Linked DNA regions of Homo sapiens: region 2 is linked to region 1. The links come from fine-mapping of genetic effects on gene expression. Tissue or cell type: whole blood. Region 1 holds a variant in brackets; the other region holds the start of a gene. All regions are shown on one strand. Distances are between the middles of the regions.

Region 1 (8,000 bases):
AAGCAGAGATGGCCAGGCACGGTGGCTCACACCTGTAATCCCAGCACTTTGGGAGACCGAAGTGGGCGGATCCTGACTTGAGGTCAGGAGTTCAAGAACAGCCTGGCCAACATGGCAAAATCCCATCTCTACTAAAAATACAAAAATTAGCCAGGCGAGGTGGCGTGCATCTGTAATCCCAGCTACTTGGGAGGCTGAGGCAGGAGAATCGCTTAAACCCAGGAGGCGGAGGTTGCAGTGAGCCGAGATCGTGCCACTGCACTCCAGCCTGGGCAACAGTGTGAGACTCTGTCTCAAAAAATAATAATAATAAAAATAAAAATAAGCCGGGCGTGGTGGCTCACACCTGTAATCCCAGCACTTTGGGAGGCTGAGGCAGGTGGATCACAAGGTCAGGAGATTGAGACTATCCTGGCTAACACGGTGAAACCCCGTCTCTATTAAAAATACAAAAAATTAGCCGGGCGTGGTGGCCGGTGCCTGTAGTCCCAGCTACTTGGGAGGCTGAGGCAGGAGAATAGCATGAACCCGGGAGGCGGAGCTTGCAGTGAGCTGAGATTGCGCCACCGCACTCCAGCCTGGGCGACAGAGCAAGATTCCGTCTCAAAAATAAATAAATAAATAAATATGAAATAAAATAAGAATCAAGCAGAGAAAATTCATGCATACCTAAAAGATAAGACCAAGGAAAAAGGCCAGAGTCCTGTACGACTGCCAGAGTTGTGCCTCAGTTATTGCTTTGAGCTTCTGTGAGCCAAAGAGAAAGGAAGAGGAACAAAGGTAGTTGCATGATTCTTCTTGCCTCTAGGGAAAAAGCATCCCAGTTCCTCAGAGAAAGGAAATTTTTTGCTGGCAGTTAATATCTAAGGAATTTCTCATACAGGTCTCCATATAGGGATGTGGTGGCTGATGAGAACAGACTGCAGCTTTCCTAACTAAGGGCATTGTTCACTGAGCATCCAAATCAGCAGCATCAGCAGAGAGTGGGATGCCAAGGAATGACTCAGCAAGGGCAGCTCTGCAAGGCTACAGAAGAGCTTTGTGGGGGCTCTGGCCAGACCCAGGGGCGATGGCTAAAACCAAAGAGGAATGGATGTACTGAATTCCCATCAGAGAAGTGTGGCTCCCGGCTTTCTGGTTTACATTTTTTTTAATCGAATGACTTCAACATCATCTATAAAATATTCTTTTTTAAAAAAAAAAAAAGCCTGTAATCCCAGCACTTTGGGAGGCTGAGGCAGGTGGATCACCTGAGGTCAGGAGTTCCAGACCAGCCTGACGAACATGGAGAAAACCTGTCTCTACTAAAAATACAAAACTTAGCTGGGTGTGGTGGTGCATGCCTGTAATCCCAGCTACTTGGGAGGCTGAGGCAGGAGAATTGCTTGAACCCAGGAGGTGGAGGTTGTGGTGAGCTGAGATTGCACCATGGCACCCCAGCCTGGGCAACAAGAGCGAAACTCCATCTCAAAAAAAAAAAAAAAGAAAAAGAAAAAGAAAAAGCAGCCTGGGCAACATTGTAAAACCCCATTTCTACACAAAATACAAAAAAAAATTGCCAGGCTTGGTGGTGGCGTGCGCCTGTAGTCCCAACTATTTGAGAGGCTGTGGTAAGTGGGAGGATCACTTCACCCTGGAAGGCTGAGGCTGCAGTGAGCCATGATTGTGCTACTACCCTCCAGCCTGAGTGACAGACCAAGACCCTGTCTCAAAAAAAAAAAAGAAAGGGGAACCCAGGTTGGATCAAGCCTCTAGATCTAATCACTTGTTTATAGGAAATGCAGAGGGAACAGAAGACTATGTCATACCACACCACAGGGATATGATGGGCAAAATCCAGAATGTGGAAAATTCCAAAGGCAAACCACCCAGATTCTTCAGCAAATAAATTTCAGGGGGAAAAAAGGTGGGGAGAGGAAACCTATAGAGTATGCTAGAATCTTAAGAGACATGGAAATCCAAGGAAATGTGCAGATTCCACTTAGGTCCTGATTGAACAAACCAACTCTCAAAAAATATTGAGGCAAACTGTGTATTTGAAGATTAATACTAAAAAAAAGTTTTCTGTTTGTTTTGTTTTGTTTTCAGGCAGTCCTTGAACCAGAATAGGTTCAGAGAGGCTCCCCGGTTAATTTTTTTAGGTGTGAAAATGCTAATAGGATTTTGATTATATAAAAATTGTTTTGCAAATTGAAAAAATAATAAAAATAGGCCGGCCGCAGTGGCTGACGCCTGTAATCCCGGCACTTTGGGAGGCCAAGGCGGGTGGATCACGAGGTCAGGAGATCGAGACCATCCTGGCTAACACGTTGAAACCCCAGTCTCTACTAAAAAAAAAAAAAAAAGAAAAAATAATTAGCCGGGCGTGATGGCGGGCGCCTGTAGTCCCAGCTACTCGTGAGGCTGGGACAGGAGAATGGCGTGAACACGGGAGGCGGAGCTTGCAGTGAGCCGAGATCATGCCACTGCACTCCAGCCTGGAGGACAGAGCGAGACTCCTTCTCAAAAAAAGAAAAAAAAGAAAATAAAAATAGTTATGGTTTGTTTCAAAATACTCCAGGTAATGGGGGTTACAAAGAAAGAAGAAACACTTTCTTCCACCCTCTTACTGCCTGGCCTGAGAGCTTACATATCATTTTCAAGATAGCAGTACATCGTGAAGATGTGACAAGGCAAAGGGAAAACGGTTTTAAGCTTCTGGGGGCTACAAAACCGTGGGATGGTAAATATATGGGGAAAACTAGTGGAAGATCACTCTGAATTTAGTAAGATTTGTTTGTGCAGTTTCATCTCAGTGCCGACTGTCCTTTTTTTTTTTTTTTTTTTTTTTTTTTTTGAGACGGAGTCTTGCTCTCTCGCCCAGGCTGGAGTGCAGTGGCATGATCTCGGCTCACTGCAAGCTCCGCCTCCTGGGTTCACACCATTCTCCTGCCTCAGCCTCCCGAGTAGCTGGGACTACAGGCACCCGCCACCACACCCGGCTAATTGTGTGTGTGTGTGTGTGTGTGTGTGTGTGTGTGTGTGTGTGTGTGTAGTAGAAACGGGGTTTCACTGTGTTAGCCAAGACGGTCTTGATCTCCTGGCCTCGTGATCCGCGCGCCTCGGCCTCCCAAAGTGCTGGGACTACAGG[C/A]GTGAGCCACAGTGCCTGGCCTGACTTTCTGTCTTCATGACCATAAACCTTCCTGGAAGAGGATATTTATGGCAGTCCTCATTTCTAGGAGTTTTTGCTTGTAGTCAGATAAGGAAAGTTCCAGAAAGGCTCTCTCTGCATCTGTCCGATCTCAAATGCCTCAGTTCAGAATTATCCTTATACCAAAGTAGCATTTGGTGGGGCTGAGATATTCTGATCCCCTTCAAGGGATTGGGAGTTTAGATGGAAGGGAAGTGGCAGGAGTTAGTAACTGTTGGAGCTGGGTATGAATAACATGGGGATTCATTAAACTATTCTTTTTTTCTCTCTCTCTTTTTGAGACAGAGTTTTGCTCTTGTTGCCCAGGCTGGAGTGCAGTGGCACTATCTCGGCTCACCACAACCTCCGCCTCCCGGGTTCAAGCGATTCTCCTACCTCAGCCTCCTGAGTAGCTGGGATTGCAAGCATGCGCCACCATGCCAGGCTAATTTAGTATTTTTAGTAGAGATGGGGTTTCTCCATGTTGGTCAGGCTGGTCTCGAACTCCCGACCTCAGGTGATCCACCCGCCTCAGCCTCCCAAAGTTCTGGGATTACAGGCGTGAGCCACCGCGCCTGGCCCTAAACTATTCTTTTTACTTTTTATTTTATTTTTTGAGAATTTTTTTGAGACGGAATCTTGCTCTGTCACCCAGGCTGGAGTGCAGTGGCGTGATCTTGGCTCACTGCAAACTCCGACTCCTGGGTTCAAGTGAGTCTCCTGCCTCAGCCTCCCAAGTAGCTGGGATTACAGGCATGCACCACTAGGCCTGGCTGATTTTTGCATTTTTAGTAGAGATGGGGTTTCACCATGTTGACCAGGTTAGCTCGAACTTCTGACCTCGTGATTCGACTGCCTCATCCTCCCAAAGTGCTGGGATTACAGATGTGAGCCACCACGCCTGGCCTTTACTTTTTTATGTTTGAAATTTTCCATAACAAAACATCTTTAAGTATTGGAAATACTGACAAACGGTGAGCCAACTTTTCCCAAATACAAAATTATAACAAAATTACCCTGCACTGTCACCACCGTTTCATAAGAAAAAAGTCTTTATAACATCAAAGATACAAGAAGGGCTTGTGAACCCAAAATATCTGAGACAGGTCTCAACCAATTTAGAAGGTTTATTTTGCCAGCCGGGCACGGTGGCTAACACCTGTAATCCCAGCACTTTGAGAGGCTGAGGAGGGTGGATCTTGAGGTCAGGAGTTTGAGACCAGCCTGCCCAACATAGTGAAACCCTGTCTCTACTAAAAATACAAAAAATTAGCTGGGCATGATGGCGGGCGCCTGTAATCCCAGCTACTTGGGAGACTGAGGCAGGAGAATTGCTTGAACCTGTGAGGTGGAGGTTGCAGTGAGGCGGGATCGTGCCACTGCACTCTAGCCCGGGCGACAGTGCAAGACTCCGTCTCAAAAAACAAAAAAAAAGAGAAAGTTTATTTTGCCAAGGTTAAGGACACACCCATGACACAGCCTCGGGAGGTAGATAAGAGACAAAGAGTTGCACTCTTTTCTTTTGAGTTTCTGATTAGCCTTTCACCTAATACGCAATTTACATTTGAGAGGAGGGCAGAGGAGTAGTCACTTTTGCTTTAGTCTGGTTTAGTGAAATCAGAGGTCAGGGGAAGCAATCCGATATGCATTAGTCTCACGTGAGCCTCGGAGGGATGATTTTGAGTTCTGTCTGTCCTTTGTCCACAAGGAATTTCCTTGTGGGCAAATTGTGAGGGAGGCATGTAGCTTTTTTTTTAATAAATCTTTGTAGCTATCTTATTTAGGGATAAAATTGGAAGCAGGTTTGCCTGACATAGTTCCCAGCTTGACTTTTCCCTTGGCTTAGTGATTTTGGGATTCCAAGATTTATTTTCCTTTCACAGGCTTAATCTCTGAATAAAGGACCCTCTTAAAATGGGATGTAGTTAGTTTTCTGGAAAAGTCACAGCCGACGCTCCCAGGGACTGTTTCTGGTTCACGGGCCCTAGGTTCAAACAACCCTTCCCAAACCTTGTTTGTTTCAAAGGTTGAGATCAAAGCTAGTGGGTAGCCAGTGAGGCTGTGCTTGTTCACTCTGTGACTCGGACAAGCTGGCACCTGTCTTCTCTGGGCTGCTTTCTCTCAAAGACTAAGAGTGTTTAGTGCAGAAAGGCCCTCAGAGATCTGGGTTAACCTCTTATTTATTTATTTTTATTTTTTGTTTTGTTTTGTTGTTTTTGAGATGGAGTCTCACTCTGTCGCCCAGGCTGGAGTGCAATGGCACGATCTTGGCTCACTGCAACCTCTGCCTCCCGGGTTCAAGCGATTCTCCTGCCTCAGCCTCCCAAGTAGCTGGGATTACAGGCGTATGTCACCAAACCCAGCTAATTTTTGTGTTTTGAGTAGAGACAGGGTTTCGCCATGTTGGCCAGGCTGGTCTCGAACTCCTGACCTCAGATGATCTGCCCACCTCGGCCTCCCAAAGTGTTGGGATTACAGGCGTGAGCTACCATGCCCAGCCGGTTAACTTCTTATTTTTACAGATGAGAGAACTGAGACAAAGAGAGGAAGAGTGACTTGCTGGAGGTAACAGGGTGCCACTTAAATGGCACAGCCTAGGGTAGAACCCAGGGCTGCTGGTGCCTCGTCCAGGGTTTGCTCCACTCAACGTTTTACCTGCTATGAACTGACCCATGTTGTTTTCGTCATTCTAGTCAGTACCTAGAAAGACAGCTGTGTGGACTAGCTGCTGGACCACCAGGCTTTAAGTCTTGACATTGCTATTTACTGGCTGTGCAACCTTGAGCAAGTTTACTTAACTTCTCTGGGCCTCCATTTCCTCATCTGTAAAATGGGTAGGTGCTGTAATCATGACAGTTATCTTCCGTGAAAATTCAGTGAATGCATGTGCCGCAGTGCCTGCCATGTAGAAAGGACTCAGTGCAGCATAGCTGCATTTTCACCTCCTATATGGATGGTAAGTTCCACAGATTTATTACGGAAAGCAGGCTGGCCTTTAACTTAGGGTCATGGAATGTCAGAGCTGGAAGGGGCCTCTTGAGTTAACTAGAGAGGCGTCCTTTTACAGGAGAAAATGAGTCCCTGGGGGCCTGCGTGACCTGCTGAAGGTCCCAGGGGCTTTTGGTGACAGAACAGGAATCAAACTCCAAAGGGGTCCTCTGTCCTGGGGCTCTGGGCTTGTTGAACAAGTCAGCTGCCCCATCCTCCAATTTATAGAGCCATTAGCCCAAGGGAGTGTCAGTGTTGGTCAAGTAAAGACACGTGGAAGTGCACGGAGCTCTACAGTTTACTAACAGCATTTGCAAAGTTGGAGCCTTACTCCAGCCTAGAAGGTGGTGAGTGCTGGAATGAATATTCCATTTCACAGAAAGAAACCAAGGCCCCCAGGGATGAGTTGGTAACCAAAGCCATGGGTAGAGGCACAGAAATTCCTTGACTACTCTGGAAAATGAGGGAGTTCACCTTCAAGAGAAGAAAGTTAGGTCAGTATAAAATGGCTGACAGCCTCTTCTGCCTTCAGAAAAGTACTTCAACTGCAAAGTCAACTACTAACTTCCAAGGAGGTCAGGAAGGAAAGCAGTTGCTATGGCAACATCTTTGGCAGCTATTTTCATCCTTCTCTGGTTCAGAACAGCTTCCAGCAGGTTCCTGTGGGAGGGATGGGGGAGAAAGGGAAAGGCTAGCTCCAGCCCAGCAACTGTCCTCAGCCAATCTCCCACCAGATTTCGGTGGCAAGAGGAAGGTGGCAGCCAATGAAGAGGCTCGGAGCTTGCATCATCCTCCTGACCAGGGTGGAATAACCAGGAGGCAGGCGCACGTGACCGTTTCCATGGTGACCTCCCTTAGCAACCCTGACTGGTCCTGTTTATGAACGCTGGAAAATTCCAACCAGCCTCTGTCCTGATTTTTTTACCTACTCTGCCTCCGCCTGCTCCAATGCAGGGGTGAAGTCACTGCCAACGTTTAACCCTTTCCCCACGTGGGCCTGGCTCCAGTCAGATCGAGGGTCTGGGAGGGCTGCAGGGATCTCTCAGTCGCCAATGGTTGCAGACAATCCAGTAAGCCACAGCTGTTACTTGCTGCACTGAACCCTGCCTGCGCTGAGTACCGAAAGCAGGAGGGAAGGTAGCCACATCTCTTGAGCCCGGCGCTGTCCTAAGCTCCTGACATCCCCACAGGCCTGAGAAAGGGGCACCACAAACAGGAACCAGGCTGAGACTGAGCCTGTGGACCCTGGTAGCAAGGGCGCCCTCTCTCTAAGAAGCCCTCTGTCATGCTACCGATGTTGCAGAACACCTGGGGCGGAGTAGGGAGTGCCAAAGCGCAGGGGATGAGTGCACAGCAGGGAGACTTCTATGGTCTGCAGGTGAGCTGAAGGCAGGCCCCTGAGGAGGTGGACATTTAGGCTGAATGGAGGACAGGGAGGTAGCAGGACCTGCTGTCTCCAGGACCCCTAAGTTTCTAGGCCAGAGCTGACGGCTGGTGGGTGCAGTCAGCCAGGCTCCAGGGAAGGCTGCTCCAGGCAGGGCTGAGTCTTCACGGTTCAGCTTTTAGAACTGGCCAGGTTGGAATTCTGGCTGGGGGCAGACAGGGAGGGCAAACCACAAACACTTCTGCCTGATCTGGCTGGGGAATCCACAGAGACCACCAGCTGGGACTGGGGTGAGCCTCTCAGAGCCCCTAGCACCAGCCCAAGGCTGCATGGGCTGACTGTGTGGGCGGATGCTGCCTAAGTCATGTGCAGAGCCGTCCTGAGCTGAGGCAGAACTATAAGACATGAACTCTGTTTTCAAGACAGGTGACAATGACAAACAGCAATAAAAGCCACACA
Region 2 (8,000 bases), 91 kb after region 1:
GGTGGCACGTTAGGCACCAAGTGTGGACTTGCCAGTCTCCTGACTCCACTGTTAGATCATTTTCCTTGGGTGTGGGGGCGGGGCGGGGCGCGGCGGGGAGACGGGGTAGCAAAAAGAACCGTGAAGAAACCACGCCTGCCCCCTTCAGCCTTTTCCCCCCTCCGCCGCATTTTTCCATCTCCCCTTGAGTGAGTGGATGTCCCGTTGCCTTTTCTCAGCTTTGCGCGACGTGGTCCCACAACCGTTGCCTTTTTAAGAGAGGCCCGGCCCATCCAGAGGGGGTGGGGCAGAGGCGGAGTCTGAGGAGCTGGGGAAGGAACAAAGCGAGGCCTGCGGGCGGCGGCTGGGCTCCGGCGGGGCCGCGGGGTGCGGGGCCTGCGGGCGGCGGCCCGGGCGGAGCGTTGGAGGGAAGGAGGTGGCATCGCCGTCCGCGCCGGCCCCGGCCATGAACGGGCTGCCCTCGGCAGAGGCGCCGGGCGGGGCGGGCTGCGCTTTGGCCGGGCTCCCACCGCTGCCGCGCGGCCTCAGCGGCCTCCTTAATGCGAGCGGGGGCTCGTGGCGGGAGCTGGAGCGCGTCTACAGCCAGCGCAGCCGCATCCACGACGAGCTGAGCCGCGCCGCCCGCGCCCCGGACGGGCCCCGCCACGCCGCCGGCGCCGCCAACGCGGGACCCGCAGCCGGCCCGCGTCGTCCTGTCAACCTCGACTCAGCGCTGGCCGCGCTGCGCAAGGAGATGGTGAGTGGGTGGGCGCCGGGCCAGCTGGGCGGGGGGCTGACGCGGAGGAACGCAGGGGACTGGGACAGGCGGCCTGGGTCTCAGAGGACTTGCAGGCACCAGTTGGGTTGCAAGGGTTATGGTAACAATAATTAGTGATAGTTACCAATTATGGCAGTAGTTACCATATATTTTCAAATGTTTTGCTGACGTTACTTCATTTCATCCGGCTAAATGGATAACCCCATTTTTTGGGTGAGGGTCATGACTAAAGTTGCATAGCTTGCAGGTGGTGCCTGATGTCCACAAAAACTTCGTTTAGGAAGGTGCGGGGAAGATGGGCTGGGGCCCACTATTCCAGGGGGCGGGGCTGGGCTGGGGTGGCCTGGACCCCAACTCCAGCCCACCCTCAGTTGTCTGCAGGTGGGGCTGCGGCAGTTGGACATGTCCTTGTTGTGCCAGCTGTGGGGCCTGTACGAGTCAATCCAGGACTACAAACACCTGTGCCAAGACCTGAGCTTCTGCCAGGACCTGTCATCCTCCCTCCATTCGGACAGCTCCTACCCACCGGATGCGGGCCTGTCTGACGACGAGGAGCCTCCCGATGCCAGCCTGCCTCCTGACCCGCCACCCCTTACTGTGCCCCAGACGCACAATGCCCGTGACCAGTGGCTGCAGGATGCCTTCCACATCAGCCTCTGAAGGGCTGGGGGGCAGGGGGCATGCACCCATGCAAAAGGCTCAGAAACTCCCCCTCCGGCAAGCCCTCAGACTTCGGAGCCTGCGCCTTCCCCCCTACCGCCTCACCTCACAGGAGGGCCAGGCATGTATTCCTCAGAGGCGAAACTGCCAAACTCTTTCTCCTGTCTTGGGTTGGCTGGCACTGGGGCGGGCATCTAGGGTACAGCCTCTGCTCATGGCACTGGGCCTCCAGTTCTTCCACATGTGTGCACCCCCAGCTTGGCCAACCCTCAGCCTTGCGGTGGGGCCCGAAGCATCTTCCCTTCCGCTTGGCGTCTCTGGGATTGGGATGAGTGCCTGGCTCCCATCTCCTCCTCACCTTTTGTTGCTATCGGCAGCTGCTGGCTCAGGGGCATCCCACCTCCGGGCTCTGGGTTCCTCTGCCCTGGAAGGGCTCCAGGACCCGTCCCAATAACCACCCACGGCCAGGAGGGCCAAGGCCCCGTGCTGGATATTTAAATTTAGGGGCCGGTCTCCAGGGCGCGTAGATAAATAAATACACTCAGCGTCGTTGTGCTCTGCCTGGCTGGCTCTGGGGCGGGAAGACCGCGGTGTTTGTGGCAGGTGCGGCCCCGCGCTCTGCCAGCAGGTGGCGCCCGAGACCCCCTCCCCCCCCGCCCCGCGCCGAGTGAAGGCCCTGCCGTCCCGCCGGGGCGGGGCTGGGGGCGCTGCCTGCTGGCCGAGCCTGGCTCAGCCGCCGGGTGACTGCGGTCGAGTCACTTCCCCTCTCTCGCCCGCGACCTCCGAGTCCCCCGCTCCCTCCTCCCAGTTCGCTTCGGGCTTTCCCTGCCTGCCGGGAAGGAAGGAGAAGGAGCCGCCCACCTTGAGGAGGGAAACTTTCCACCCCGCGCGGGGCGGGGTTGAGGCGGCGCAGGAAATGGGTGGCCGGAGTCGCCGGAGCAAGGGGCCCCGGCGGGGGCGGGGGAGGCGCCTCCGGGAACGGCCTGGGACCTCACGCCCCGCGGGTGGGAGGGAGGGGTGGCAGAGGCCGAGGGGAGTGAAGTCGCGGCACCTCGGGCCTTCCCGGAGGCCAAGCATGAGACTCCGCGGCGGTGAAGTTTGATTGGGGTTCCAGGGACCCGTATTCCCCGCTCAGTCTGTGAAGACCGCCGGCTCTCCCCACAGCACTAGCGGTCTTTACAGTTATCTGTGGAAGGTTTCTTAGGAAACCGGGGACCCACACCGCTGGGACTGAGAACCAAACCCAGTTGTCAAGCCCACCGGAAGAAGCCAGCACGTTCGGAGACAGTGGGTACTCAGCCCCCTACACGCGCACACGACACCTCACAACCTCCTGAAAAGAGGTGAAGCCGCACACCGAGGTGTGCGGACGAACAGCACATCCCCGCGCCCTGCTGCAGCCATTTGCCTCCTGGAGATGCAGCCCAGATGGCAGTCCTGGCACTCAGACATCCCGTTAAACCAAGTAGCAGTCACGCACCGGGCTCCTGTCCATTTACACACCTTGCAGAGCAGCGGGAAGGAACAAACTGACCTATTGCCCCAGGGCAGCTGACACCTGCAGAGGCTCATTACCATGCAGGGCGGGTGGGTAGGCGATAAGGGCTCTAATCTAGGGGTTCACAGCTGCTAACGCTCCAGGCAGGCTTTCCTGGGGAGGGAGAGTAAACATACACAAAAATGACACGTTTTCCCCATCCATTATAGCGCATCCCATTTAATAAGGAGGCATGGCAAAATCAGCCAGGCTTTCTGCTAAATGCCTTCTGAGGTTCATCCTCTCAGGGATTCCCTAAAAGGCGGAACTACAATTATCCCCATTTAATAGACGTTGAAACTGAGGCTCAGAGTGTTAGCGCTTTGCCCAAAGTCACACTTGGTTGGAGGTCAGTTATGATTCTCCAGCTACTTGTCGGGGTTTGGGATTATCTTCCCCCTTGACAGCAGAGTCAGGTTCTGAGGTTGGGCCACCGAGGTTACTGACGCCTTCCTGCTCTGGTTAAGACGTGGGTGGCTGCACCTTGGAGTTGAGAGCTGGTCCTCGTCCACATTCACAGTATGACTCTGAGCAAGTCCCTTCCCCTTTCTGGGTCTCAGTTTTCCCAGCCGTTGAAAGGGGGCCAGTAGTACGTACCTCCCAGGGCTGCGGGCAGGAAGGAAGGCGGCCCGGGCAGCGCTCTCTAGGGTGGCACCAAGTTGCTGGTTGCCCTCTCTCCACGCAGCCTCTGCGCGCACCGAGCGGGCACTGCGGTCGGGCGACACCCCTTCCACGCCCCCCTCCCCCGCCCCCGCTCCCGCTCCCGGGTCGCGGCGCGAGGCCCCGGAAGCCGGGTCGCCCCGCCCCCGCGCTCCTGCCCCGGCCCCCGCCCCGCGCCGGAGCCCCGCCCGCCTTCCGACGGGGGTGCGGCTCCAGGAAACGGCGCGCTCCCAGCTCCGCGCTCGCCACCCGACGCGCCCCAGGCGACCCCGCAGACTCAGCCAGACCACCCTGCGGGCCCCAGCGGCGGCAGCGGAGAGCGCGGTCCCGGGTCGGAGCCTGGGACACCTCCGCACGGACGGGGCGGGCGGCGCGGACAGGCCATGGGGACCCGGGCCGGGCCAGCGGTGGCGGGCCAGCGGGAGCCCCGGGCCTGAGAAGTGGGCGGCGGGGTGGCGGGGGCCATGACCTCGGTGTGGAAGCGCCTGCAGCGCGTGGGCAAGCGGGCGGCCAAGTTCCAGTTCGTGGCCTGTTACCACGAGCTAGTGTTGGAGTGCACCAAGAAATGGTGAGTGGGAGGGAGGCGGGGGGGCTCCCCCGAACTTGCTGGGACCTCATCCGGCCCTTTGAGCCTGAGAGGACTCTGCCCCCCCAGCCCAATGACCAAATGGGCCCCCACCCCAGCTTGGGCCCTGGTTCCGTTCCCAGGCTCGGAGATTCAGAAGTGCCCTTGCAATTTGTGGGACCCCTGGAGTTGGGGGCGTGGGCAGCCTTCCCTGCGCGGGGGTCAGGACTTTCAGGCCTGAGGTTCTGCCTGTGTCCACTCCTTCCTCAGCTGCGGTCAGGGCTGGGGGAGGGAGGCCGCATGTCTTGTGCCAGAAAGGTGGTTCAGGGTGGCATTGGAAAAGGGATCAAGTTTTGAGGTCTGCAGGTGGCTAGGGCTGGGGCAGGAGCCTCCCTGACCTTACTTAGTCCAGCTAAGAACAGAGATGTTGCCCCCTCCTCCCCTGCCATCTTGTTGAGCCAGAAGAACCCCTCCAACTCCCGCCTCTTCAGCCAGAGTGCTGGGAGGCTGGAAACATCTCCACAATGTCCTTAAAAGGGGAAACTGAGTGCTGGGAGGATTGAGGAGGGAGGCGGGGAGCAGCTTAAAGGGGCCTGAGGACCTAGGAGGTTGTGGGTCCGGGAGGAGAGGGTTGCGGAGGGCAAGGTGGCAGGGTGAGGGGTGATTCACCAGAGGGTGCAGGCCCCAGCCTGGACTACCAACAGGTTCAGGGGCATCTCGTTCACATGCCGCCACCCATAGCTGCCCAGGCCCCTGCGTCACACCCTAAATATACGTGCTTGCTGGTGTCAGCTTCCCTTGGCTGGATTAGGGCACAGCTGTGGGGGCCTCACCCGCCAGGCGGGGCTAAATTTAGGCTCCCCAGGGGAAGGGCTGGGGCAGGAAGGGACCATGGGGTCCAGGGGGAGGGGAGTAAGCAGGAGGCTGGGGTCCCTTGGGCAGCTGCCATATCCTTGGCCTTGCCCACACTGGGCCTGCTAGAGGGCCATTCACATCTTTCAGCAGAGCCTGGGAGAGCTTGGGGGCTGGCACTTGAACTCTGGCCTCTGGCTCCTGCTCCAGCATCCTGCGGGAGGCCAGGGAAACACTGGGCACAGCAGGCTGAGGGTGCCGGCAGTGTCAACGCAGCTGAGTCACAGGCGGCTGTGGGTAGGGCCTCCTGGGCTGCTTAGCCTGGAGCCCAGGCCGGGAAGCTGCCCCTGCCCAGGTTGCAGCTTCCCAGGAGGGCGTGCCCAGCCTGAGTCAGGCTGCCCAGCCAAGCCCTGCCCTCCCTAGGCACCCCCTGTCCGCTTCCCCTTTCTGGGAAGGCCCCTTAGTTACCCTTGCTCTGCCATCGCTGGCAATTTGGGCTTGGGGAAGGGAACTTGGCTCTGGGTTGGAGGGCTCTAGGCTCAACCGTGTAAACTTGTTTGGCTCCAAACCTCTGTGGGCCTCAGCATCCTCAGGGTTAACAGAGAGGCACTTATCCTGGCTTGGCCTCAGACGAACAGTGAGCTGGGCAAACCCCAGCATCACGAGAGGGTGCAGGCATGGGGCTGGGTACAGGCAAGGCCAGTTCGCGTGCTGCCCTGGGCCGGATCGTCCCCTCAAGCATCACCCCTCCTGGGCAGCAGTTGAACATCTAACCCCAAGGGGCCCTCTGCCCCCAGGCCCAGCCATGAGTCCACTCAGTGCCTGGGAATGGGCCCTGCGCAGCCATCTCTGTCCTCTGGCTTTGCCTCTGCCTCTCCTCCATGTCTGACCTGGCATATGCTGTTCAGCTTAGATGTCACCCCCTGGAAGTCTTTTCTGATTGCCCTCCAGGCTCCACTGTCATCATCTTGCCGAAAGCTGATCCTCCTTGGGACCCCTGCGCCCAGCAAAGGGCTGGACATGGTGGGCGAGGGATGGCGGTGTTGGTTAATGACAGGCTGACCCTCTGCTGCTTCTCCGGCCTCACCCCCAACTCTCTGCCCCTCTCTCTGATGTCACCCTCCAGCCGCAGACCCTTGGACTTGCCATTCCCTCTTTCTCCAGATCCTCACACAGCCCATCCCCCTGCCACTCATCTCTGCCCAGACACCCAACCTCAAGGAGACCCCCAGGGGTTCCCTCACATCACCCTGGAGTTCGCTTGTTAATTTATTTTCCTTCTTGACTGGTAGTCTGCCCCCACCTCCATTGTCCTCACCGGAAAGGTCTTGTCTCTCTTTTGCCCTCCTCTGTCCCCAAAACTGGGCTGGGTTTATGGTGGGCGCTCCACAAACATCTTTGTGCGAAGGGACTTCTTTTATCCCTCGTCTTTGTCTCTCCCTGTGTTGGAGTCTGCGTGTGTGCACGATGCTCACATGTGCATCTGTGTCTGGCATCTCTTGCCAGGTCCTTGTGTTTCTGTGTGTCTTGGTCTCTGTATGTGCCTGTCCCTTTCTCACTTGCTGTCTTTCCTCATAGTCCCTGCCTGCCCACACTGTCTGGGCCTTTGCCCTTCTGCTCTGGCCCCACCCTACCTTAGCAGCTCCACCCTGCACCCTGTGGCCCCAGATAAGGGGCTGCCCAGGCCCTCTTCTGGAGGAGGGGGAGGTGGGCAGAAGGAAGACCCTGAGGGAGCTGGGGGAGGAGGAAGAGGAGATGGGGAGGCAGGTGAGCCTGACCAAGCAGCCTGCTCCCTTTCTCCCTCCCCTTCCCCCTCCCCCAGGCAGCCAGATAAGCTGGTGGTGGTATGGACCCGTCGGAACCGACGCATCTGCTCCAAGGTGGGGAAGGATGGCAACTGGGGATCCAGGTTAGGGATGGGGGCCGGTGGGAGGCTGATGGGGGCTGATGGGGGAGTGGAGTGAGGTTCAAGCACAGATCAGAATCCACAGAGGGGAGGGGAAGATGGTGTCAAGGTTGGTGATAGGGGGTGCAGGTGGGAGGGAAGAGTTAAGATGGGGGGAGGACTCAGATTGTCCCTTGTAGGCCCACAGCTGGCAGCCGGGCATCCAGAACCCATACCGGGGCACCGTGGTGTGGATGGTACCTGAGAATGTGGACATCTCTGTGACCCTCTACAGGGTGAGTCTCTAGCCCTCCAGCATGGATGGCAATTGCAACACAGGCAGTTGCAACAATTGCAACACAGGTCTCCTGGTAGGTTGTTCATCCAGATAGAAGAGGATGCGGGGGGTGAGGCCAAGAATTAGGGGGGCCTGCTCAGCATCACTGGCCCAGGAGGTCTCCTTGGAGGAGGCAGCATTTACCCAACACATGCAGCATGAGAGGCAGCTGGGACCAGAACTTGGGGTGCATCCCAGGAGGAGGTAGCAACCACCGCGTGCACCTGTAATCCCAGCTACTTGGGAGGCTGAGGCACGAGAATTGCTTGAACCTGGGAGGCAGAGGTTGCAGTGAGCCGAGATCGCACCCCTGCACTCCAGCCTCGACGACAGAGGAAGACTCCGTCTCAAAAAAAAAAAAAAAGCCACCACTACCAAGCACCTCCTGAGCCAGACAAGCTCTGCTCCCTTTGCTGCTGCCCCAACAGTCCTGTACTCACCAGCACCCTTCTTCCCAGGACCCCCACGTGGACCAGTATGAGGCCAAAGAGTGGACATTTATTATTGAAAATGTGAGTGTCTGGAGTGGGCTCAGGTCTGGAATCTTGGGGACCCTGGGACAGCACTGATGCCCCTTCTCCTGGTCTCTCCCCTGGCCCACAGGAGTCTAAGGGGCAGCGGAAGGTGCTGGCCACGGCCGAGGTGGACCTGGCCCGCCATGCAGGGCCCGTGCCTGTCCAAGTCCCAGTGAGGCTGCGGCTGAAGCCAAAGTCAGTGAAGGTGGTGCAGGCTGAGCTGAGCCTCACT

What was found. PIP is the estimated chance that this variant, and not a neighbour inherited with it, causes the effect.
Region 2: it holds the start of EHBP1L1, and the variant in region 1 is fine-mapped to the expression of EHBP1L1 in whole blood (TOPMed, PIP 0.91).

The regions. Positions count from the first base shown.
Region 1 is chr11:65,480,804-65,488,803 of GRCh38, forward strand. LINC02736 (long intergenic non-protein coding RNA 2736) reads right to left here and starts at 7,283. Exons shown (of 3, transcript NR_187301.1): 1 at 7,087-7,283; 2 at 6,723-6,817; 3 at 6,105-6,631. RefSeq lists enhancers at 691-1,285, 6,430-8,000, 6,431-7,102, 6,755-7,049, 7,103-7,774. The variant C/A (reference allele first, on the strand shown) is at 3,131.
Region 2 is chr11:65,572,225-65,580,224 of GRCh38, forward strand. It overlaps EHBP1L1 (EH domain binding protein 1 like 1), which reads left to right and starts at 3,829. Exons shown (of 19, transcript NM_001099409.3): 1 at 3,829-4,182; 2 at 6,854-6,911; 3 at 7,117-7,212; 4 at 7,712-7,765; 5 at 7,857-8,000. The coding sequence starts at 4,079. It overlaps FAM89B (family with sequence similarity 89 member B), which reads left to right and starts at 314. Exons shown (of 2, transcript NM_001098785.2): 1 at 314-736; 2 at 1,139-1,966. The coding sequence starts at 446. The coding sequence ends at 1,417. It overlaps LOC124902692 (a long non-coding RNA gene), which reads right to left. Exons shown (of 2, transcript XR_007062731.1): 2 at 7,732-8,000. RefSeq lists silencers at 185-634, 1,914-2,433, 3,454-3,873, 3,884-3,943, 4,004-4,103 and 1 more and an enhancer at 2,804-2,943.